Homo sapiens: one gene and its partners. The protein of the gene in region 7 purifies or fractionates together with the protein of the main gene of each other region. This does not show direct contact. Each region holds a gene or a part of one and is shown on either strand. Other genes may lie near its edges.

What was found.
Region 1: the proteins of MN1 (region 7) and KCTD5 purify together in Homo sapiens (affinity purification with mass spectrometry, with the first as the bait; one large-scale study listed by BioGRID). This does not show direct contact.
Region 2: the proteins of MN1 (region 7) and PADI6 purify together in Homo sapiens (affinity purification with mass spectrometry; one large-scale study listed by BioGRID and IntAct). This does not show direct contact.
Region 3: the proteins of MN1 (region 7) and ANAPC7 purify together in Homo sapiens (affinity purification with mass spectrometry, with the first as the bait; one large-scale study listed by BioGRID). This does not show direct contact.
Region 4: the proteins of MN1 (region 7) and PKNOX1 purify together in Homo sapiens (affinity purification with western blotting; one study listed by BioGRID). This does not show direct contact.
Region 5: the proteins of MN1 (region 7) and E2F7 purify together in Homo sapiens (affinity purification with mass spectrometry, with the first as the bait; one large-scale study listed by BioGRID). This does not show direct contact.
Region 6: the proteins of MN1 (region 7) and SMU1 purify together in Homo sapiens (affinity purification with mass spectrometry, with the first as the bait; one large-scale study listed by BioGRID). This does not show direct contact.

Annotation. Positions count from the first base shown.
Region 1 is NC_000016.10:2,685,523-2,689,022, reverse strand, and holds part of KCTD5 (BTB/POZ domain-containing protein KCTD5), read right to left. Parts: intron 1-3,500. UniProt on the Homo sapiens protein: Its interaction with CUL3 suggests that it may act as a substrate adapter in some E3 ligase complex. Does not affect the function of Kv channel Kv2.1/KCNB1, Kv1.2/KCNA2, Kv4.2/KCND2 and Kv3.4/KCNC4.
Region 2 is NC_000001.11:17,396,196-17,399,197, reverse strand, and holds part of PADI6 (inactive protein-arginine deiminase type-6), read right to left. Parts: intron 2,128-3,002; coding exon 2,057-2,127; intron 513-2,056; coding exon 351-512; intron 1-350. UniProt on the Homo sapiens protein: Structural constituent of cytoplasmic lattices, which plays a key role in early embryonic development. Cytoplasmic lattices consist in fibrous structures found in the cytoplasm of oocytes and preimplantation embryos.
Region 3 is NC_000012.12:110,390,209-110,393,708, reverse strand, and holds part of ANAPC7 (anaphase-promoting complex subunit 7), read left to right. Parts: intron 1-3,500. UniProt on the Homo sapiens protein: Component of the anaphase promoting complex/cyclosome (APC/C), a cell cycle-regulated E3 ubiquitin ligase that controls progression through mitosis and the G1 phase of the cell cycle.
Region 4 is NC_000021.9:43,012,562-43,016,061, reverse strand, and holds part of PKNOX1 (homeobox protein PKNOX1), read right to left. Parts: intron 2,995-3,500; coding exon 2,824-2,994; intron 1-2,823. UniProt on the Homo sapiens protein: Activates transcription in the presence of PBX1A and HOXA1.
Region 5 is NC_000012.12:77,041,570-77,045,069, forward strand, and holds part of E2F7 (transcription factor E2F7), read right to left. Parts: intron 3,227-3,500; coding exon 3,068-3,226; intron 1,631-3,067; coding exon 1,496-1,630; intron 1-1,495.
Region 6 is NC_000009.12:33,043,470-33,045,674, forward strand, and holds part of SMU1 (WD40 repeat-containing protein SMU1), read right to left. Parts: 3' UTR 1-2,205. UniProt on the Homo sapiens protein: Involved in pre-mRNA splicing as a component of the spliceosome. Regulates alternative splicing of the HSPG2 pre-mRNA. Required for normal accumulation of IK.
Region 7 is NC_000022.11:27,798,957-27,803,131, reverse strand, and holds the start of MN1 (transcriptional activator MN1), read left to right. Parts: upstream 1-1,375; 5' UTR 1,376-2,588; coding exon 2,589-4,175. UniProt on the Homo sapiens protein: Transcriptional activator which specifically regulates expression of TBX22 in the posterior region of the developing palate. Required during later stages of palate development for growth and medial fusion of the palatal shelves.

The DNA of each region.
Region 1 (3,500 bases), on a different chromosome or scaffold from region 7:
GAGAAGCAGACGTGTGTGGACTCACGACCTGGCCCCTCACAAGAGGTCCTGCGGCTTCTCGGGGAAGAAACATGCTTCAGGTGAACCACGGGGGGTCTTGCCAAGCCGAGGTCGCTGCAGAGAGTCCTGCTCTGCTCGGCAGGAACTGGAGCCCTCTCAGGAGCAGGGGTGTCAGGTTTCTTGCAAGAAAACTCGGGGGCTGCCCAGGAAGCCCTGCCCTCCCCACAGTGCAGGGTCCAGTCCCCAGAGGTGGAGACCCACTCAGCGGGGGCCTGTGCTGCTAGGGTCAGCCAGAGCTCTGGGTGGCAGCAGGGGGACTGGCAGGGCGAGCCACTCCTGGCCATACATGCTGCCTTCAGGGACCTCCGGTGCATCACCCGAGGCTGACAGGGCTGAGTGTGGCCAGAGGTCGACATTAACAGAAATTAAGTGTGGCTGCGGGAGGGGAAAAGCGTTCTTAGCATATCCTTCCTAAAAGTAAAGTACACTCACACCTGTAATCCCAGCACTTTGGGAGGCCAAGGAGGGCGGATGACCTGAGGTCAGGAGTTCGAGACCAGCCTGGCCAACATGGCAAAACCCCTTCTCTACTGACTATACAAAAATCAGCCAGACATGGTGGCTCGTGCCTGTAATCCCAGCTACTTGGGAGGGTGGGGCAGGAGAAATGCTTGAACCCAGGAGGCAGAGGTTGCAGTGAGCCGAGATCACCCCACCACACTCCAGCCTGGGGGACAGAGCAAGACTCCGTCTCAAATAAATAAATAAATAAATAAATATATATATATATATATTTATTTATTTATTTATTTAATAATAAAAACCAAGTACAAACATGAAATGAAGACCGCCAGGCACAACCTCTCCTGACTGCACTGACCTGGCACCAGGTACGGGGCGGGGGCATCACATTTGTCATCTTCAGGAGAGGACGTCACAGTAAAGTAAGGACTTTACAGAGGAAGAAAGCACAGCTCACAGGGGCACGAAATCACCCCAAGTCATAAGGCAGGCCAGAGGTGGGCAGATTCCAACCCAGGCTCCCCAACTCCAAGGAAGATGCTCTGTCACATCAACCCCAGGCCAGAATGTTCTAGACATTCTGCAGTCCATGGAGAACTGCCGAGTTGACGCCCAGGGAGAACAAGCATGTCCTGGGAGAGAGATGGCTTGCTGGCACCTTTGCTACAAGGACCCCTCCCATGGCGCCAGGCAGGCAGGTTCTTCCCCAGGCTTTAAAGACCATGCCTGGGGACTGCTTACCTGGGGCGTGGAGGGGGGCTGCTAAAAGAACCAAAGTGCCTACAAGTGTCTGAAAAGGAGTCCCTGGGATGCCTGGTGGTTAACGACAGGGCCGGGGCGAGACCAGGCAGCAGGCGCCCCCATCACGGCCACAGCCCTGGCGAGGCTTTAGACCTCACTCCGTGACCTTTCAGAGCAAAAACGGCCACACACAATCCGTAAGCAAATGGGCATCTCTGCATTCCTGTAAAACTTTACTTGCAAAAACAGGCAGGTGGACCAGCTTTCTGACTCCTGCTCTAAACCAAGACTAGTCACTGCCCTGCTGGACGACAGCCACTGAAGGCTGTATCTGCAGGGCCAGAAAGAGGAACTGCCCTGCAGCGACAGCATTTCCTCCCAGCCACCCGCAGAAGTCTGGAGGCGAGAATGCCGAAGACCGCGGGCCCATGTCAGGTGCCCCGAAACAAGCTCTTCTCAGAAAGCCTCAAAACTGTTTTCTTTCATTCTTCCTAGGTAGGACTGAACCCATCAGAAACGTTCCATTTCATCACCAGAGTCGAGTCCTTTTCTCAGGAATTTATGGAACTGACTCGTGGCCTAAGGTCTAAAGGGCTTCAGGTGAGGCACCTGATAAAGAGGTGAGCACAGGTTTGCTGAGGACCAGCACCTGCTGCAGTGGGGAAGGAGCGGGGAGCCCCCAGCACCGCAGGGACCATCGCAGAGGTCCAGAATAGAAGATGACTTGTGGTCAGAGCGAAGATCGTGCTCAGAGCCACATCCTCAACTGAAGCGTGAAACAAAGTCCATCAGCGTCGCAGACACCCACTAACGGCCTCAAACTGAGGCCACCATAGCTCTCACCAGTGCTGGCTACACAGAACATCATCTGCCATCTCCACTAGACGTGATCCCCACTTCTCTTGCCAAGCGGCTTCAAAGACGGTACTCTAGCCCACACCCCATCACTGGGCCCTGTCTGAACAATTCCTTCCATAACTTTCCACCCCCGAGGTCTTGCCAACACCCAGTACACTGTTAGAGGCACCCTGACTGCCCCACCCCTCAAAGACCCATCTGATGCCACCACATCTGGAACCCTCAAGCCGGGACAACGGCCCTGTTCAAAGGGCAAAAGTTCACGTGCAGTTTTCTCCAAGGCTGCCTCAGCTGCAGGAACCGAAGCCTCCCCAAATTCTCCTCCATCTGAGTGGTTTCCAACCATAAAGCAGTAGTATTTCCTGTTTCCTTTTAACTCCTCAAGTATCTCCACACTAAAGCAGGGGCTGCTTTAGCTGGAAACAACAAACTCGACTTTGTTTTCAACAATGCCTATGGGCCGGGGACCATGCAATACAAGAGACCTAACCAAAATGAATCGAGTCTTTGGGAAGCCGTATTCCACCTGGCCTGCCCTCGAAGACACCAAGGAAGAGAAAGATGACAGAACAGCAGATGAGCAGATGCTGAAATGCTCACCACAGCCACAGTCCTGCTGGAGGAAGTCCCAGGAGGAAGTGAGAATTCACACCGGGCTGTCTAGAAAGAGAACTTTGTGGCAGCAGGTCGGCCCTTGGAACAGCAGAGTAAGGGCTTGGGAGCGTGGAGTATGGCGGGTGGTGGGTCCCAAGCTGGGCTCTGAGGACTTGGTTGGGGGCAGTCACAGCCCAGAAGCTTAGATGTGGGGCCAGAGGGCAATCAAGCCAGCCCCTTGATGTGCGTGGCTTTCACCACCCTCCCTAACAACCCGTCTGTCAAGAGCTCCCCTCCCTACCAGATAGGATGCTTTAGCAGGGTGCTCTCCCAACCTCTCAGGCACCCAAAGCTTCTGTGGTTTCTTGGGAACTCCTCCCCCTTAAATCTCCCCACCCAACTCCTCTCCAGACCCCCACACTCTGCAAGCCCAGGTGCTCACTCCACACAAGTCTAATAATCCAGGCAGGGACTCTTCCACCAGATCCATGCTTAAGTCCAACTCGAGGAATATTCTTTCCTTAATCTCAACTCTGAGGTCAGGCCTTGGAGATCTTTACAGGTGAATCAACATCCTGTTTGTCTTCCAACGTGTCATTAATGGCCTCCCACTCCTGACACCCCTTCCCCCCCTCCTCAGATTCCTCAGTCAGCATTTAATTAGGAGGAATCTCCTGGGACATTCTTTCATCAGAGCCACTGGAGACAAAACTAAGATGAAGCATTTTACACATTTCCTCATTTGATGAAAAACACCGGAAAACACTTTAGTAACGTGACTAATA
Region 2 (3,002 bases), on a different chromosome or scaffold from region 7:
CAGATGCGCGGCAACCTCGACTCTGGGTTGCATAGCACCCCATCCGAAGTGGGCCTCACAGGTTCACCCTTTTAGACTGGGGGCGCAGCTCACTGAGGCTCCTAAAGCACCTGGCCCAGGGCCTGGCCCATAGTAACTGCCTGGGGAACCTCCAAGCCTTCAGGCCCTGTACACTTGCTCTCTGGGTGGGGCGTCCCTAACCGAGATGGGGGAGAAGGGGTCTCCCTCCCATTTCCTCATAGGTACCGTTATCTGCTGTCCACCATATCTGCAGTCCAGCACAGTGAGGTGGCAGCCAGTGTTGCCTGGACAGGCCCTCCCCCACCCAGGGATGCGCAGTCGCCCCTCACCAGGTCAGGGAAGTATGGCCTCGCAAAGGACCTCTTGGGCTGCTGGTCAGAGGGGATGTTAGTCAGCTTCTCCAAGCAGAACAGCTGGGGAATCTCGATGATGTCCTGTTCCACCAGGCCCAGCTCCGTCTTCAGGATGTCACGGTTCAGGTGAATGCACTTCTGTGGGTGGGTGGGTGGGTGGGGGGGGGGGCGGGGGAGCAAGGAGAGCTCATCAGGAATTAAAACCAGTTTCCTTCCATACTGAAGGTAGGTGATGGCCTGACACCACTACCATCCCCATCACTTGCTGTGTGCCAGGAGCCTCACACTTCATACCAGCCTTACGAAATAGGCAGTTCCCTTTTCACATGGGGAAGTAGGGGCTCAGGAATGGCCTAGTCTTTAGTCCAGGATCCCATGGCTAGACAGCGTCTGGCACTTCTCAACCCAGACCAGCTGAGCCCAATACCCAGGCATCTCCCTAGGTCTTGAAATAGGCTTCAGACATAACCCAACACACCTGTCTCCCTAGGTCTTGAAATAGGCTTCAGACACATACCCAACACACCTAAGCTGTCGCCAGGGGCTGGGAGATGCTGTCTCAGCCCCATGCCTGGCTGGCACCCACCCTGCTATGCCAGGGGGGCTGTTCTTGCAAAACAGGGTACCCATGCACTGTGCGGGGCATAGAACATTCCTTGGGAACATTCCTGGGAATGTTAAGGACCCAGTGAGAGAAGCAGTTTTGCTGACCATGCAACCTCAGCCAAGAAATTACCCTTCTCTGGGCCTAAGCTTCTCCTTCTACAAGTTGGGGAGACTCTGCTTCTTATAGCCAATGATTCACTTCTAAGATCTCTGAAGTTTGGTGACCCTGAACACCATCCTCGGGACTGCTGTGATGGGCCACTTCATCCAGAAAGCATTGAGTAGTCCCTCGTCTATTTGAGTCTGATACTCAGCTTCTCGGAAGTGAGGAGCCGGCTTCTTCAAGGAGGCTGCGGAGCTATGTCATTTTCCGGGAAATGGACCCCAGGCAGCTTGAGTATAATGAGCAACACATGAACTTGGGAGTTCAGACTCATTTTCCCAAATGATTGTCCTGGGCTAGCGGTTTTACTGTGTGCCTCACTACCCTCATATGTAAGAGGTGTTTTACTTTATAGGGCTATCTGCAGGGTTTGTAGTTTTATAGGGCTATCTGCAGGGTTTGTAGTGAGGTATCTCGCAAAATGCTTGGGCCATCATTGGCTCTCAGCTAGGAACCTGGATAATCAGGGCTTTCCCAGCTTGGGGGAAAAGATCCAGCTGCATAGTCATAGCAAAGTAAACTCCCTCTGACAGTATCTGCAAGTAATATCTGTCAACGGTCCCGACATGCCATGGCGCTCCTCCCTGCCCCTGTCCCACCCTGGGTCCTCAGCCATCTGACACCATAGAAAGCTGTGTTACCCACTTCCAGCCCTCTTCCAAGCATAAAGGTACATCGTGCTGTGTTTGACTCCAGAGACCTAACTCCTTACTCCTCTAGTCTCCCTACATTGGCATATGGCCAGCTCTAGCCCCAGACCTGGGCCTGTATCAAGACCTGGAAGAAAGGGTGGCAGGCAGCTGCCCCCCGCCGCCCAACACTTCACCCCTCAGGAGGGGTGGGTGGAAACCTTCCTGCAAGACCTGCGGCACCAGCTCTTTCTTGGGGATGGCCCCCTTCACACTGGTCCTACCTCCACGTATTCATTCTGCTTCTTCAGGCTTTCATCAGCCAGAAGTTGGTCGATGGTTTTGGCTTCCCTTCCTGTAGGAAGAAGCGGGCAGCAGGCCTGCTGGTCAGGGAATGGCAGCACTGCCCAGAGCTGGGCACACTCGGGCCAGGCCCAGCCACCTGGGTGCATTCCTGGGCCAGTGACCATGGCGAGAGGACTGGCCTATCTCCAGGGATCACACCCTCAGGTCCAATATCTTCCTTCTGGGGACTGACCAGGGTCTACACCAGAACTCCCAGGCAGGACTTACTGCCACTGGCCACTCTGTCCCCAGCATGAGGGGGAATAGCCTGTGCCAGGCTGAGGGACACAGCCTAGAGCTTGTTAGGATGACTTCAGCCCCTACTCCCCTTATGCCAATACAACCTGGCACTTTCTGCCTGTGACCCTCTCCAGGTTACATTACCTTTGTTCCTCAATTGCCTGATCTTTGGGACAGGGATGCCCAATTTATTTGCCAGCTCTGAGGTGATAGTCTTTGTCATGTGGTTCATGCTCAGCAGATGTCACCTTCCATGGTGCTTCTATGACCAGGAGTTCCCGGGCCCCAACCCCAAAGGCTGAGTATCCAGGAGGTGTGGAGCAGGGTGGAAATTCTACATTTTTAACAAGCTCCCAGGTGCGCTGGCCCTCAGATAACACTTTGAGTATTGAGGGTCTAGAAAAACCTAATACCCCCAGCCCCTTTCTGGGTTCCTACAGCCTTTATTATTTTTTGAGATGGAGTCTTGCTCTGTGGCCCAGGCTGGAGTGCAATGGCACGATCTTAGCTCACCGCAACCTCCACCTCCCAGGTTAAAGCGATTCCCCTGCCTCAGCCTCCCGAGTAGCTGAGATTACAGGCATGCACCACCATGCCCGGCTAATTTTCGTATCTTTAGTAGAGATGGGCTTTCGTCATGTTGGC
Region 3 (3,500 bases), on a different chromosome or scaffold from region 7:
TTTAGTAGAGACTGGGTTTCTCCATGTTGGTCAGGCTGGTCTTGAACTCCCGACTTCAGGTGATCCACCCACCTCGGCCTCACAGAGTGCTGGGGTTACAGGTGGGAGCCACCATGCCCGGCCAATTTTTTTTTTCTTTTTTTTAAATAGAGATGGTCTCCACCATTTGCCCAGGTTGGTCCCAAACTTCTGGGCTCAAGTTGTCCTCCCCCCTTAGCCTCCCAAATTGCTGGGATTACAGGCAGGAGCCACTGCACCTGGCCTCCTTGTGTTTGTTTTTGTTTTTAAGTGAAAGTGAGTTTATTAATAAAATAAAGGAATAAAGAATGGCTACTCCATAGGCAGAGAAGACTTTGATATTTCTTATTATAGGAAATAATGATTTATTTGCAAAACACTTCCAGGTGGCAAAAATACTTTTTTAGAACTTCATTTTTTGCCTTCCATAGGTGTACACATTTGGTAATGGGGGTGGTTTTATTCCTTTGTTTTGAAAATTAATACTGTAAGATTCTTTTATCCTTATTTATGTGTAGAATATGTCTTTGTGTTTGATTTGGCAGCATATTATAGTGAAGAAAACACCTTTAACTAAAATCAAAAGATCTGGTGTCGGCTGGGCATGGTGGCTCATGCCTGTAATCCCAGCACTTTGGGAGGCCGAGGTGGGTGAATCATCTGAGGTTGGGAGTTCGAGACCAGCTTGACCAACATGGAGAAACCCCGTCTCTACTAAAAATATAAAATTAGCCGGGTGTGGTGGCGCATGCCTGTAATCTCAGCTACTCTGGAGGCTGAGGCAGGAGAATCGCTTGAACCCAGGAGGCAGAGGTTGCGGTGAGCCGACGTGGTGCCATTGCACTCCAGCCTGGGCAACAAGAGTGAAACTCCATCTCAAAAAAAACAAAAAAACAAACAAAAAAAGATCTGGTGTCTAGTTTGAGTTTAGGTGCATACAAGCTGTGTGCAGTGTGAACTTGGGCAAGTTACCAATTTGTGAGCTTTACTACTTTTTTATTTATAAAATGAGAAGAATAGTATTTTTTCTGTTACTTTTATAAATACCAAATAAATTCATGAATGTGAGAATATATCAGTATTTAATATTCTAATAATACTGTCATGTCTCCTGCCTTGCTCATTTTATTGAAAAACTGTTTTGTGCAACTTGTGCTTAACAATAAGGAATTTTATAGGTAAAATGACAGGTGCATCCTCCTGCCTTTAAAAGATACGAAATCTAAGCAGTAGGGGCCTGGTGTATTTTAGTTAGTGCTGCTTCATCCAAGTCTTGCTGAACTTTAAAAGTAACCAAACTTGATGAGAACATGTTTAAGCACCTCCTCATATTAAGGTATTATTTACTATTTTCTGAGTTTTTGAAGCTATTTCTTCAGTATGATGGTGGCTGCTATTAAAAACACTTGAAAGTTTATTATGAATTAACCTCTCTCATCATAAGCCTGGATGCTGTATACTAAATCCTGTTCTGGTAACCTATGAAAGTCTTCTCTTACTCCAAGAATAATCTTGTTGCACAGATGAAGAATGTCTGCTGCAATGCTCAAGGTATCTTCCTTTTGTAAGAAGCCTTTTTTTTTTTTTTTTTTTTTTTTGTGAGGTGGAGTCTTGCTGTGTTGCCAGGCTGGAGTGCAGTGGCACAATCTTGGCTCACTGCAACCTCCACCTCCCGGGTTCAAGCGATTCCCCTACCTCAGCCTCCCGAGTAGCTGGGACTACAGGCGTGTGCCACCACGCCCAGCTACTTTTTTGCATTTTAGTGGAGACGGGGTTTCACCATGTTGGCCAGGATGGTCTCGATCTGACCTTAGGTGATCCGCCTGCCTTGGCCTCCCAAAGTGCTGGGATTACAGGCATGAGCCACCACGCCCGGCCAAGAAGCCATTTTAATTATAAACTTTGAAGGATACTATTCCTTACTTTATTAGAAATATACCATAATCTCCTTCATAATGACCTGTGGATATTTGTAGGACTTTTTTTTGAAAATAGTAATGTTAAAGCATCTCAGCTTTATAGCATCCACTGCTTGATTTTCATTGCCATCATTCTTAGAGCACCTGTATGAGTCTGCATTTGTCAGCAGTACATATCCTTCATTCTGTAGTGCTCTTACAGCTAGGAGCAAAGATGTGTGCCTCAAACATAAACCTATAACATTTACAGTTTTTCTTTCTTGTCTGTTAGGGAGTTAACTGGCTTCTCAGTCTATGTAAAGGACAAGGAAGTGAGTCAAAATGTGTCTAAATGAATGTCTGTTAATATATGGTAAACATCGCCACATATTCCCTCACATTTTAAAGGAAAATTCCAGTGTTAGATTATTAAATCTTGGTAAATCTTCACCTTTTAAGAGTAAACATACCAACATAGAATTTCTTACTCAGTTTTTAGAAAATGATGACTGCTTGTGTTTATAACTGGTGGAATGTGGCTTTATGATGTTTTTAAGTGAGTATCTATTTTTAAAATAGTTGACTTTTTTTGTTTGTTTGTTTGAGATGGAGTCTCTCTCTGTTGCCCAGGCTGGAGTGCAATGGCATGATCTCAGCTCACTGCAACCTCCACCTCCTGGGTTCAAGCGATTCTCCTGTCTCAGCCTCCTGAGTAGCTGGTACTACAGGCGCGTACCGCTGCACCTGCCTAATTTTTTGTATTCTAGTAGAGACGGGGTTTCACCATGTTGGCCAGGCTGGTCTCGATCTCCTGACCTCGTGATCCACCCACCTCGGCCTCCCAAAGTGCTAGGATTAGAGGTGTGAACCACTGCGCCCGGCCAATAATTGACTTTTTCATTAGGTATTACTCAAAACTCATTCTTTTAAAGTGACAGTCAAGTAGCTTAAAGGAAATTTTGATATTTGTTGAGAAAGATAGTCCATCAGTCATAGTTTGTTAATATAACCAGCAGTCAAGAAAGGATCTTAAATTTAACTTTTTATTCTTTACAAGTATTGACATCAATCCTGGAGTTTTCCTTTTAAGTATTTTTCTTTGCATTTTCAAAATAGTAGCCTAATATGGAAAATCTGAGGCCAAGTAAAAAATAGTTTTATTTTTAGTATTTCATTATTCCATTGTTTGAATTAGTGTGAATCAATGCTATATTAGATTGTTTTATATAATGTAGGTCTATAATTGGAACAGATGTTCTTTATCTTTAGAGCCACTCTTTCTATAAATATCTGGCATACCAAGCCACAGTTAAATCGAAGAGATTGGGGGTTGACCTTTTTTCTTTTGTGCCCTCACATTGACTGCTTCCTTAGGTTAATGATCTAGCAAATACTGTTGTGTTTAAAATCTACTAATTTTGCCAGACACGGTGGCTCACGCCTGTAATCCCAGCACTTTGGGAGGCCGAGGTGGTTGGATCACCTGAGGTCAGGAGTTCAAGACCAGCCTGGCCAACATGGTGAAACACCATCTCTACTTAAAATACAAAAAAAAAATTAGCTGGGCGTGGTGGCGGGTGCCTG
Region 4 (3,500 bases), on a different chromosome or scaffold from region 7:
AAGCCTGCCACATTAATTAGGCTGTAATAAAAGTTAAGCTAGTCAAATCAATCATCCCAGCTTCCACCTTAAGATCTTAGAAAAAGAGGAACATCATGAACCGAAAGCAGAAGAAAGGAAATAATAAAGATCAAGGTGAAATCAATGAAACTGAAAACAGAAAAACAACCAAAAAAATCAATAAAACAAAATACTGTTCTTTGAAAATTACATAAACCTCTAGAAAGACTGACTAAAAAAAAAATAGAGACACAAAAGATCAATATCAGAAATAAAACAGGAAGAGATCACTATAGACCCTGCTAACACCAAAAGGCTATGAAGAGAATACTAGACCAACTCTAAACTCCTAAATTTAACATCTTAGGTGAAATAGATCAATTCTATTTCTCAAACATTTAAGAAATAACACCAAGTCTACATAATCTCCAGAAAAAAATAAGAGGAGGGAATACTTCCCAATCCATTTTATGTAAGTTTGTGTATTTTGATACCAAAACCAAAGACAGTATGAAAAACAAAACTATACACCAATATCCCTTACAAATATAGACAAAAATGCTGAACAAAATATTAGCCAATAGAATTCAAGAATACATATGAAAAGAATTATGTGCCATGGCCAAGTGGAGTTTATTCCAGGAATAGAAGGCTTGTTCAATATTCAAAAAACCAATCCATGTAATGTCCATTATTAACAGGCTAAAGAAGAAAAATCACATAATCATATCAATCAATGCTGGAAAAGCATTTAACAAAATTGAACAAAATAAAATCTCTCAGAAAAAAAGCAATATAGGATAACCTCCTTAACTTGATAAAGAGCATCTAGAAAGAAACCTGCAACCAACATCATCGACAGTGAGCGACTGAAAGGTGTCCCCTAAGGCGGTGACAAGGCAAGGATGTCTGCTCTTGCCACTCTTATTCGAGATGGCACAGGCCAGGAAAGGAAATGCTTGGGTATAATTCTAAAAACGCATGTACACAACTTATGTGTCAAAAACTACAAAGCACTGATGAATGAAATCAGAGTTGTCAATCAATGGAGAGACATGCCATACCTGTGGACTGGAAGACTTAATGCAGTAAAGATGTCAATTCTCCCCAGATTGATATACAGGTATAATACAATTCCTATCAAAATCTAAGCAAGATGTTTTTGTAGCTCTAGACAAGAGCATTCTAAAATTTATGTGGACAGGCAAAGGAACCAGAACAGCTAAACAATTTTGAAAAGGAATCACAGGGTGGGAGGAAACAATGTGCCCAGCTTTGAGAGTTATTCTATAGAGAAATCCACTCAAAATGGATCACGGATTTAAATGCAAAATGGACAACTATAAAACTTTTGAGGCCAGGCATGGTGGTTCACACTTGAGCCCAGGAGTTTGGGACAAGCCTGGGCAACATAGTGAGACCTTGTCTCTATTTAAAAACTTTTAGGAAAAAACTTAAGACGAAGTCTTTGGGACCTAGGGTTAGGCAAAGAGTTCTTAGACTTGACACCAAAAGAATGATCCATAAAAGGAAAACCTAATAAATTGAACTTTATTAAAATTAAAAAGGCTGGCTCTGAAAAAGACCTGTTAAGAGGATGAGAAAAATACTTAGCTACTATAGACTTGGAGAAAACACTTGCAAACCACATATCCAACAGAGAACTAGTATCTACAATAAGCAAAGAACTCTCAACACTCAGAAGTTAAAAAAAAATCCAACTAAAAAATGCGCAAAAGACGGCCAGGCGTGGTAGCTCATGCTTGTAATCCCAGCACTTTGGGAGGCCAAGGCGGGCGGATCACGAGGTCAGGAGATCGAGACCATCCTGGCTAATACGGTGAAACCCCGTCTCTACTAAAAATACAAAAAATTAGCCGGGTGTGGTGGCAGGCACCTGTAGTCCCAGCTACTCAGGAGGGTGAGGCAGGAGAATGGCATGAACCCAGGAGGCGGAGTTTGCAGTAAGCCGAGATCGCGCCACTGCACTCCAGCCTGGGTGATGGAGCGAGACTCTGTCTCAAAAAAAAAAAAAAAAAAAAGGCAAAAGACATAAGCAGCAGACATTTTATCAAAGAAAATACACAGAGGGTATAATAATGTTCAACATTATTAGCCATCAGGGAAATGAAAATTAAAACCACAAAGAAATATTAATATCACTACATATCATCAGAATGGCTAAAACACAATAGTGCTTCCGCATGGATGAACCCTCCAGGCATTCTGCACAATGAAACAAGCAAAGGATCCAGAAGGACAAACACTGTACGATTCCGCTTAACATGAGAGACCTGGAGTCATCGAATTCACAGAGACAGACAGTAGAACGGTGGGTTCCAGGGGCTAGGGGAGGGGGAATCCGGAATGAGTGTTTAATGGGGTCAGAGTTTGAGTTTGAGAAGATGAGAAAGTTCTGGAGATGGATGGTGTTGATGGTTGCCCAACAATGTGAATAAACTTAACACCATTGAACTGTAAATTTTAAAATAGCTAAGATGGTAAATTTTATATTATGTGTATTTTACACAATTTTTCAAAAGAATAAGTAAAATATTTTCAGAAGAAATAAAAGAAAGAAATGAATGGAATTGTGCCTTCCATAAACATGGGACCGGGGGCCCAGTATGCAGATTGAGGACTCACTTCATAATCTGAGGGAGTTCATTCCCAAACCAGGCTGGGGTCAGAGACCTAGAGGGTCCTTCTTGTAGAAAGTCATAAAGATGACCCAGTGAATTCTGAAAGAGCTGGTGGTCTCATGACTCAATGCAGATGTTCACAGTGGCAGAGAGGGAAAGCGAGACCCCCAAATGTAAGTACCTGGGACTGCACTGGTGAGTACGGGCTTCCAGGCTCTCCACTCAACAGAGTTTCACTGTTCATTTTTGTTTTCAGACAAGCAATGTATCGACTGCAGAAATCTTTGCAGAGTTCGTTAACCTTTTCCAGCTCAAGAAGATGAATGCGCAAAACCTGGATTGCTTTTACCATCTAGAGCAGAGAAAATGAAGACTTTCAGAGAAAAAGGTGGCATTATTGTAAGTTATCATGATCCTACATACCAGTTCTTAGTCATTAGATAGAACCATCTCTACTGCCAATAACCAAAGTGGAATAACATCAGAAATCCTCTAAACTGATGTGTTGTTCCGGTGCCACTGACCTGGGCTTTGGTGTTTGGCTGCATCTGGTGTGCAGGGAAGACAAAGGCGCGTGGTGGTGACCTCGGTGCATCCCAGTGCTAGGTGTGTGGGCTGTGAGCCAAAGCCTAGCCCTTCCACTGATTCGCTCTGTGGCAGGCAGGACAAGTGACTCACCCTCATCTACTCCTGTTTCTACATCCACAAATAGTGATACATCCACACTCACCCTAGGCTAGTGCTACATTTTCATAAAGTTCCATTTTGGTGTCTTTGCCTAGTTCTAGATCCTCAAGATTTTCTCTTGCGATTTTTCTAAAAGTTATATCATTTTGTTTTGTTTTGTTTTTTGAGACA
Region 5 (3,500 bases), on a different chromosome or scaffold from region 7:
TAATTCTGTCTATCACATCTAGTCCAAATTTCTTGCCTCAATTTTTGAGGCCTTCCAAAAATGCAGTCCCCACTGATCACATTGTATCTCATTATTTTCTATCCCATGTTCTCTTCATGCCTCCAAAATCTAACAGCCCATCAGAACTTAATCTGTATCCTCTCTGAATGCCTACAGAGCCAGTACCACCCCGTCTAGCATGTAATTGCTCTCCTAACTTTCAAATGTATGCTAACTATATGCCTAATTATAGAAGCTCATTAACCAACTAAAGTGAGTAAGGCACTGTTCTGGATACTATGGGGTAATCAAGGATAAATAAAGATAATGTCTGGTCTCAAATGTGTAGGGCAGGGACGACACCACCATATCTACCTCACCCAGCACAAACAGCACAATACTCAATTGCAGTTGTTCAGATGAGACACTCTGCTCTGGGCTATCAGGAAAACTTCATAGAGGAGTTGACATTTGAGCCAGATCTTGAAGGTTGAGAATATTTTCATGTTAAGAAGAGGGCTTCACAGGTGAAAAGAACGGGAGAAATCAGAGGCAGAAAGGAGAAAAAGGCAAAGTTGTATGCTTCATGCAGGTAGGGACTGTGTTACCCACATCTTCAATCTCTCAGGGCCCTTAATATAGTCATTGGCACACAGTCCACACTCAGTGCATACGCACTGGGTTGAATTTGTTATACTTGATTTTAAGTGGTTTCATCTAGATCCTAAGTGAATAATGTGCTACAAGTGAGGTGGAGAGCTATATATTTATACGCCTGGGTTAAGTGGCTCACATTTACACCACTAACACCAAAATTGGAAGGGTAATTTAAAAATGACTTTAATGGCTTTTTCCCAGGCAGTACAGCTATATGTAAAATAGCTGGTGCAGTTGGATCTAGTCCCTGATTGCTCATATATTACCCATGAAATAAGTAGAAGATTAATATCCTCTTTGACTCCAGTTTTGTAAAATTATGATATTTATAACCTTTTAAATACAAAAAGTCCATTACATCCATACTATATTTAGATGCAATCTTAACCACATCTTTAGATGTAATTTGTTTTGTGATGGTAACTGATGTGATTTTTACTCATAATTTTACTTACAGTTTTTACATTATGTAGAATTTCAAAGAGAAACCACGTTTTACTCTGCTAATGTAGCAACAACTGGAGTTCAAAAGAGGTGTCATTTTTAATTCTCGGTCCCAAACTTTCAGGAAAAAGCTTCAGAACAAAGAGCTGCAAATTAGTAGTTACAGAAACTCCCATATTATAAACACTCAGTATTTCCTTTCCTACCATGTGTGGGCAAACCAGCATGCACAATTTGTAGGCTAATGTTAACTGTTCCAAGAGTGGAGTCACTAGTCTATTTTGTATGTGACATGGGAAAAAGATCAGTCTCACTGTGTAGTAGATGTGAGACTTGGAAAAGGAACTGAGAATTCTAAATAAAACAGCCTGCTAGCAAAACCACGCCACCTTACCACTTGAGCTGAAGTCCACAGGCCCGATCCACTTGAAGGCTGGTTTACGACCTCGCTCTTCTGTTACATGCACTTTCTTTATCAGAGCCAAGCTGGTCAGAACATTGGCTATGTCATAGAGGCGTCGTACCTTTGCTTGAAGATATAAAACACGATTACGGTCATGCTGCCTGTGACACCATGACAGTTTAGTTTATGTGACAGGTAACTTTTCTCGGCTGCCATATAAACCTCAGGTGGAAAGCAGCAGGTTGGGATGAGGAGACCAGTGGCTCTGTCATAAAATCACCCAGGATTTATGTACCTGCAGTATCTGAAGGCTAAGGGAAGGTCAGTGTGTCCTTCCATTTCCACAACTTCACACCTCTTACAAGAGGCACCTGGCGACAAACAGGGAGCACTGTGATTGCAAAAACACCAAGGGAGGGAATGGGCTGTAATTAAAAGCTTAGTAAATGTAATTCTGACATGGCACGTCAAAAGCATGCCCTGAGTTTCTCCAAGCAGGAGACTGTGGCGCCAGCTCCACAAGGCAGCTGGTCTGTGAAAATGACAAAGATTCCCCAGAGCTTCCTGCCAGGCTGCACTCCTGGGCACACAGGATGCTCAAGGTCAACAGTACAACTGTACTAAAGACAGGCAGCTCCTCACCTGAAATTGTAGCATTCTAGCCACCCAGTGAGAAGGGGTTGGATGGGCCTTGCCTGAATCTTAAGTGGCTTTGGGAGAAACACTTAAATATATACAAAGTACAGGAAATACTCAGAAGGGGTGGTAGCACATGAGACAGGCACGATAATGACCACAAAGTATTTTCTATTCAAGAAATTGATTTACAGGTAGGAAACCCACTTGACCTCAGTGTTAAGATCAAGCAAAGGAGTTTGAATTATCATCCAGAAATAGGAAGCATTCACCCTGGATGCAGCTTTCTTCTTCCCAATCCTGATTTTATCTAGCTATTTCACCCATAGGGTGACTGTAATTTCAGCTGGAAACAAAAAATAGCCAGATGTTGCAGCTCATGGTTTCCCAGGGCTTACAGGCTACCAGCAGCCCAGGGCATTTGGCTCAGTATCCAAGATGGACAGAAAAGGAGGATGCACTGGGTGTGATACTTGGAAACTCTCTCCCTGTCCATGTCCCACCACCCTTACCCTGGCCATTCTTCTGGTTCTTACCTGTAGACAATTTTCATCTCCACCCTTCAGAAGAGTATGCAGGGGGTGGGGAAAAAAGGGGAAAGAAAACTCAGACATTCTGTCTTGGATGCAGCAATACTAAAGAGAAATGCAAAATAATTCACACCCTCCCTGACCGGAGTTCTCAGGATAGTGTTCTGTTTTTCACTCTACTGAAACCACCGAGGAAAAGGCACTGACAGGACTCTAAGCTGAATTCTAGTAGGTGACTAACTTACCTCTCACAGCACCAAAAACCTTGATGAATGCAGGAAAGGAGTATGTATGTCAAAAACAATATATATATTTTTAATCTTGGAAGCAGAAAATATCAACACATGAAATCCCACCCTTTATGTGCTAGTAAGTTGATGGAGGTGAAGATTCTTACTTTTAAATTTACTATGGTCTGGGGCATCTTGGCTTTCTTCTATCAGTATTTTGGCAGCCACATCCAGAGTGACAATCTTGGTTTTGGAGACGAGGAACAGCATGACAAACTTCTGGCTCATAATTCTCAGAGACTTGTCTTTTCTACTGTTTGCAGATGCTACACAAGGAATGAAACAAAAGCATCAAAGTATATGATTTTCTACAAGAAAGACTATACTTGCAGCTTGCCAAAATGATCTAGCCCTATCAGCAGATGGAAAGATCACCCTTGTCATTGGCAGAAGCTTACTGGATACACATCACAGAAGTCAGCTCAGGAAGAAATGAGGCAGATTTTCTTGTGGCTTGTAAAATTACTCTACAGTAGGCATAAACTCTGAGATGCATATTTTAAACCACTCAATGCTTTACACTTATACTTCCTATAATAG
Region 6 (2,205 bases), on a different chromosome or scaffold from region 7:
GATAGGACCTTAGAATGTGTCTATCACGTGACACTTGTAAGAACCACTGTTCTAGCACAAGCCAAAAGAAGTGACAGCAAAGACTGACATCCAGAATCCTCTAATTCAGTTCTCTCTACTCATCTCACTACCTGTGCTCTGCTTAGGTGAATGTGTTTGCAGCATGTGGAGGAACAATCCATGTATTCTTTGTCCCTGCCCAAACCTAAAGATTGAGGAGGAACTGACAGCAATATTGAGAGTGAGGCAAGAGAGAAAAAAAACCTAGCTTCGGAGTCACATCTGGTTTTCAATGCGAGCTTCGTGCAAGTTGGACTGAGTTAGGTGCCTCACGTCTGGAAACCTGTTTCTTCATGTGCATTTGCGCACCCTCATTACATTGTTCTGAGAATTAAATATGGCTGCTTACATAGCAAGGAAGGGCTCAACAGAGGCCGTTAGTGGTAGTAATAATACATGCTGAAAAAAAACAACTGGTGAAGAAGATACTGAATTGTACCTGAGATTTATACCATTTGCTGTTAAAAAAAAAAAAAAAAAAAAAGCCATACTACTCCCAAATACCTCCGCGCAATGTTTTCCAGTCATTAATTCAACAGCAGAATAGGGGATAGGACAAATGTCCTTATGCTCATGGAATTAATTTTAACGCCAGGTAGTTTAGCTTCTATGTTAAGTGCTAGAGAGCAGCATCCGTTAAATCTGGTGGCTGCAGCAGAGCACTTCCCTAGGAACCGACTGCACACGCCCAATTCAGAAGGAAGTGAGCACTGATTCCCGGCAGCCAACTCCCGTTCGCGCAGCCGCTGCCACCGGCCCTTAAGACGATGTGACCGCCAATTTTGTAACAGTGACGTCACCCGACGTCTGCAGGCCCTGACAGTTGGCTCTAGCGGGTGCGCAGTCTCCCTACCCCCGGTAAGGGGCTCTACCGGCCCTGGACCCAAGATGGGACTCCTACCTCCGACCACCCGGAGCAGCGGCGCCCCAGATCCGGCCGTCCGCCCTGCGCGTGCGCGGCCCGACCCCGCCGCGGTCTGGCTGTAAGGGCGCTGGAGGGGAGCTGGGCTGCCCCAGCCTTCAATGCTGGAGGGACGGCCGCGTGGGGCTTCAGAAAGGCTAGGCGCCGAGGAGTGTAAGCAGCGTGTGCCCATTTAAAGACAAAATCAGTGTGTTTTTCAGGTTTGTACGAAATGAAGTTGTAGAAAGATTAACAAGGGTTACCTGGGAAAGGCAGATTTTCAACTTAGCGTTTACATGTTCACCCAGTGCATTATTTTATTTAAAAAGAAGAAAAATATATACTTAACGGCTCCTAATCCAGCTCTCTTTGCCTGGTCTCCCAAGACACCTATCATTTTGCCCAGCACATACCTTGCCGCTGTGCCACACTGGAGTCCCCGGTTAGGTTCCCTGTGCTTAGACCGCCCCCTAGTCCCTCCAGGAAGCCTTTCCCAACCCTTTCGCGTTAACTGCCCGCCTCATCATCACAAAGGTAACTTGAGCTTTTATCAGTTTTAATTACTCCTTTTAATTTGCTCTTCTTCCCTATGTTTAGGCAGAAACGAGTCTTTTTTTAACCATATTCATCACCTGGTGCCAGCAACAGAAGTGTTCCCTAAAAATTCCTAGAATAAACCAACACGTGCTGACTAGATTCTCCATCTTCATAAACGGTGATACAAACTATGCACATCATAACTACCAGCTTCATGAGGTCAAGACTAAATCAAAAATTCTCAAGGACTTTTCTAAAAATTTTTTTAGCATAAACTGTTTCCTCTAACTTAAACTTCTCTTAAGTGAACGTGTCTTTCCACTGGGATGACTGTCTACATGCTCAGGAATCCTGAATTCATGACTATGTTCAACTCCCACGACCATTTTTAAATCATCAAAATGGCAGCAAATGTCATTACCTGGACCAAAAAGCTGCAGGTTTTGTGGCAAATGGGAAATGTGTTATAGAATATGACTGGGAAAGAGGGATTTCTTAGTGCTGCCCAGAATTAATTCAGCAAACACTGAACATTACTACGTGCCACATATAGGATCATACTGCATTTCAGGTCACCATCAAAGGTAAATTACAAGGCTGGGCGCAGTGGCTCATGCCTGTAATCCCAGCACTTTGGGAGGCCAGGGCAGGCGGATCACCTGAGGTCAGGAGTTCAAGACCAGCCTGGCCAACATGGCAAAACCCCC
Region 7 (4,175 bases):
GGGCGATAAACACTTTCTTTTGTGGGGGGGGAAAGGCATTTTCATACACCACGCTTAATTTTATTTAGATTTAATAGCGATATCAGGGGCACTTCAAAGAAAGTTCTTTTTTCGCCCTTCTCCTAAGAATGCGAATCTGCTAGCAAAATCGCCTCGTGCTATTTTATGGCAAGGAAAATTAAAGGCCTTCTCCCCCCTCCTTCCCTACACACACTTTAGGGAGGAACACACACACACACACACACGCATGCACAAACACACGCACGCAGGCGCGAGCACACGCACACAGGCGCACAGAATAAACACCTCTATCCTCCATCACCTCTAACTTCCAACTTCTAATTGCAAGATAGATTTCAGCCTCTGTGGGGATCAGGACGATCTAAACATTTTAACTAAGATTATTGGGATAAATATTTCATAAAGAGCAGGGCAGATATTAAATTACTCCTATTGATTTTAGTATCACAGCCCAATTCCATTCCTCGGCCTCTTCAGTTTAATTGATCTCTTAAGGAGGCCAACTTCGCACCCGCAGAGGGTCTGGGTCTTGGACCGGGTGGCCCAGGGCAAGGTGTGCGGCCCGGCGGGTGCGCCCTCTTCGTGCGTGTCTTCTCGGGGTTCCCAGCCGCCTCGCAAGTCGCTCCGGTTACTGGGCTCAACCGATGTGCTCCCCCATAAAGTGGCTGAGTGACTGTGACTCCTTGGAGCCCACGCCGGCCGGTGAGAACCGGGAACCCCAGGCAGTGGGGAAGGGGAACAATTGTGAACGCCCTAGTGACGGAGGAGTGAGCAAGCGCCCAGGTCTCTCGAGGAGAACCCTAACTTCGAGGTTCCCCGTCTGCTTTACCCTCCAAGAAAATCCCAGGGCCGGCTAACTTGGGCGCCGCTAGCGGAGAACGGAGTGTTCACCCCGGAGCCGAAGTGCAGTAGACACTTAGCGACTTTCCGTGGCGAGTCTAGGGTCTTTGCCTGGCGACCTCATTGTCTGAGCGCCCCGTACCGCTCACCGCCCACCTCCCCGCCCCCTGCCCACCCGGTGGGTCTCGCTCCAGTTGGGGGTGGGGAGTTGGGAACAGTGTGAATGGGAAGGGGGTGAACAAAGCCAAGCTCCCGCCATTCTCCTCCGCCTGCACCCTCTCCAGCTCGATGCGCCCGGAGGCCGGGGCGCGCCCCCAGCGCACTGACGCCGGACCCCGAGGAGAGGCGGGCGCAGGGGACCCCAGAGCTGGGGTAGTGCGGGTTCGTGGCGGGGGCTTCGGCAGCCAGGACCCCGGACCACCTTAAGAGCGAGCCCCGCCCCGAGCCCGGAACTTGGGCGGCGCTGATTGGTGCAAATGTAATGGCTGAAATTGATTGCTGAAATGCAAAACTTGTTGCTGCTTCTCCCGGCGCTGGGCGAGAGGCAGACACAGAGAGGGGAGCCGAGACCCTCGGAACGCCCCACGCAGAGCCCCCCCGCTAGTCGGGAGAGGGGTGCGCAGACCCCCCAGAGCTGCCCCCGCGCCCCCCTCCCCCCATTCCGGGCTCTGAGAGCGCAGCGGGAACGCCTTAGCCTGCTCGCCCGGCGTGGCCCCCCGACCCGCGTACGCCCCCCTCCCTCAGGTCCGAGAGGGACTCGCGAAGCACCTCAGCGCGGAGGCAGGGAACCGGAGCCTTGGAGCGACCCAACCCCTCGTCTCGCTGCCCTCCCGCGCCTGCAACGGTGCGCGGAGACTCCGGCGAACTCAGACACCCAACGGCGGAGAACAGAAGCGGCAGGCGGCGGACGTGGCCGCGAAGCTGCGCGCCGAACGCAGCGCACCCGCTGCCGAGCAGAGGAGCCGCGCCTTTCCCCGACCCTCGGCTCCAGCCCCCGGCGCCTGCCGCCTCGCAGCCCCTCTGCGTCCTCGGCTCGGGGGCCGGCACCGGCGATGCCGAGCGGAGCCTCCAGTCCTCCGACCCGCTGAAGAAGCAGCAGCCGCTCGCCCGGAGCCTACGGGGATTGTGCGAGCGGATCGTGCTCGGTGGAGGCTCGGGCTGCGGGGCGCGGGGACTCCGGGGGGCGGGGGGAGGGACCGCTCTGTCGGTGCCCGGCGCCAGCCGCGGCTTTGAAGGGTCTCCCTCCCCTGCCCTTAGCAGCTCTGCCACGGACTCCGGGAGGCTGCGGGCGGCGTCCTGAGGGCTCCCCAGCAGACCCAATCGGACTTGAGAAGGTGATCGCTCTGCTCTCCCAACCCCCTTCCCTCCCCATTCCCCCCACTTAACTTTTTGTCTCCGTTCATCCGCGGCTTCGTCCCCTCCCCGCAGACCCACCCGCGGCTGTGACAACCGCCCGGGGCATGGGCCCCCCAACACGGCTCCTAGAGGCCCCGCGGCCTCGCAAGATGTGAGAGGCCCTCCCCGGGCAGAATCGGAGCTTCAGGAGAGGAGCTAATACCCCGCCCCCCGTCCCTCACATCAGGCGGGGTGGAGGTGCGCGCTGAGCCCCCGCGGTGCTGAGCGTCCCGGAGCGCCCAATCCTGGGCTGGAACGAGTAGCTGGCCGGAGGCGCGCCGCGGAGAGCCGGCTGTCATGCCCTATTGATCCCCCTCTGCCCCCCGCCAAGTATGTTTGGGCTGGACCAATTCGAGCCCCAGGTCAACAGCAGGAACGCTGGCCAGGGCGAGAGGAACTTTAACGAGACCGGACTGAGCATGAACACCCACTTTAAGGCCCCGGCTTTCCACACTGGGGGGCCCCCTGGCCCTGTGGATCCTGCTATGAGCGCGCTGGGCGAACCCCCGATCTTGGGCATGAACATGGAGCCCTACGGCTTCCACGCGCGCGGCCACTCGGAGTTGCACGCAGGGGGGCTGCAAGCGCAGCCTGTGCACGGCTTCTTTGGCGGCCAGCAGCCTCACCACGGCCACCCGGGAAGTCATCATCCCCACCAGCATCACCCCCACTTTGGGGGCAACTTCGGTGGCCCGGACCCCGGGGCCTCGTGCCTGCACGGGGGTCGCCTGCTCGGCTACGGCGGCGCAGCCGGAGGCCTGGGCAGCCAGCCGCCCTTCGCCGAGGGCTATGAGCACATGGCGGAGAGCCAGGGGCCTGAGAGCTTCGGCCCGCAGCGACCGGGGAACCTCCCGGACTTCCACAGTTCAGGTGCCTCCAGCCACGCCGTGCCGGCCCCATGCCTGCCGCTGGACCAGAGCCCTAACCGAGCCGCCTCCTTCCACGGCCTGCCGTCCTCCAGCGGCTCCGATTCCCACAGTCTGGAGCCACGGAGGGTGACGAACCAAGGAGCCGTCGACTCGCTGGAATACAATTACCCGGGCGAGGCGCCCTCGGGACATTTTGACATGTTTTCGCCCTCTGACTCCGAAGGGCAGCTGCCTCATTATGCAGCGGGTCGCCAGGTTCCTGGGGGCGCTTTCCCGGGCGCCTCGGCCATGCCCAGAGCTGCGGGCATGGTGGGCTTGTCCAAAATGCACGCCCAGCCACCGCAGCAGCAGCCCCAGCAGCAGCAGCAGCCCCAGCAGCAGCAGCAGCAGCATGGTGTGTTCTTTGAGAGGTTCAGTGGGGCCAGAAAGATGCCTGTGGGTCTGGAGCCCTCAGTGGGCTCCAGGCACCCGTTAATGCAGCCTCCCCAGCAGGCCCCGCCACCCCCTCAGCAGCAGCCCCCGCAGCAGCCGCCACAGCAGCAGCCGCCGCCGCCACCCGGGCTTCTAGTCCGACAAAATTCGTGCCCGCCTGCGCTCCCTCGGCCCCAGCAGGGCGAGGCGGGCACGCCCAGCGGCGGCCTGCAGGACGGAGGCCCCATGCTGCCCAGCCAGCACGCGCAATTCGAGTATCCCATCCACCGGCTGGAGAACCGGAGCATGCACCCTTATTCCGAGCCTGTTTTCAGCATGCAGCATCCTCCTCCGCAGCAGGCGCCCAACCAGCGGCTGCAGCATTTCGACGCGCCCCCCTACATGAACGTGGCCAAGAGGCCGCGCTTCGACTTTCCGGGCAGCGCGGGAGTGGACCGCTGCGCTTCGTGGAACGGCAGCATGCACAACGGCGCTCTGGATAATCACCTCTCCCCTTCCGCCTACCCAGGCCTACCCGGCGAGTTCACACCGCCTGTGCCCGACAGCTTCCCTTCGGGGCCGCCCCTGCAGCATCCGGCCCCGGACCACCAGTCCCTGCAACAGCAGCAGCAGCAGCAG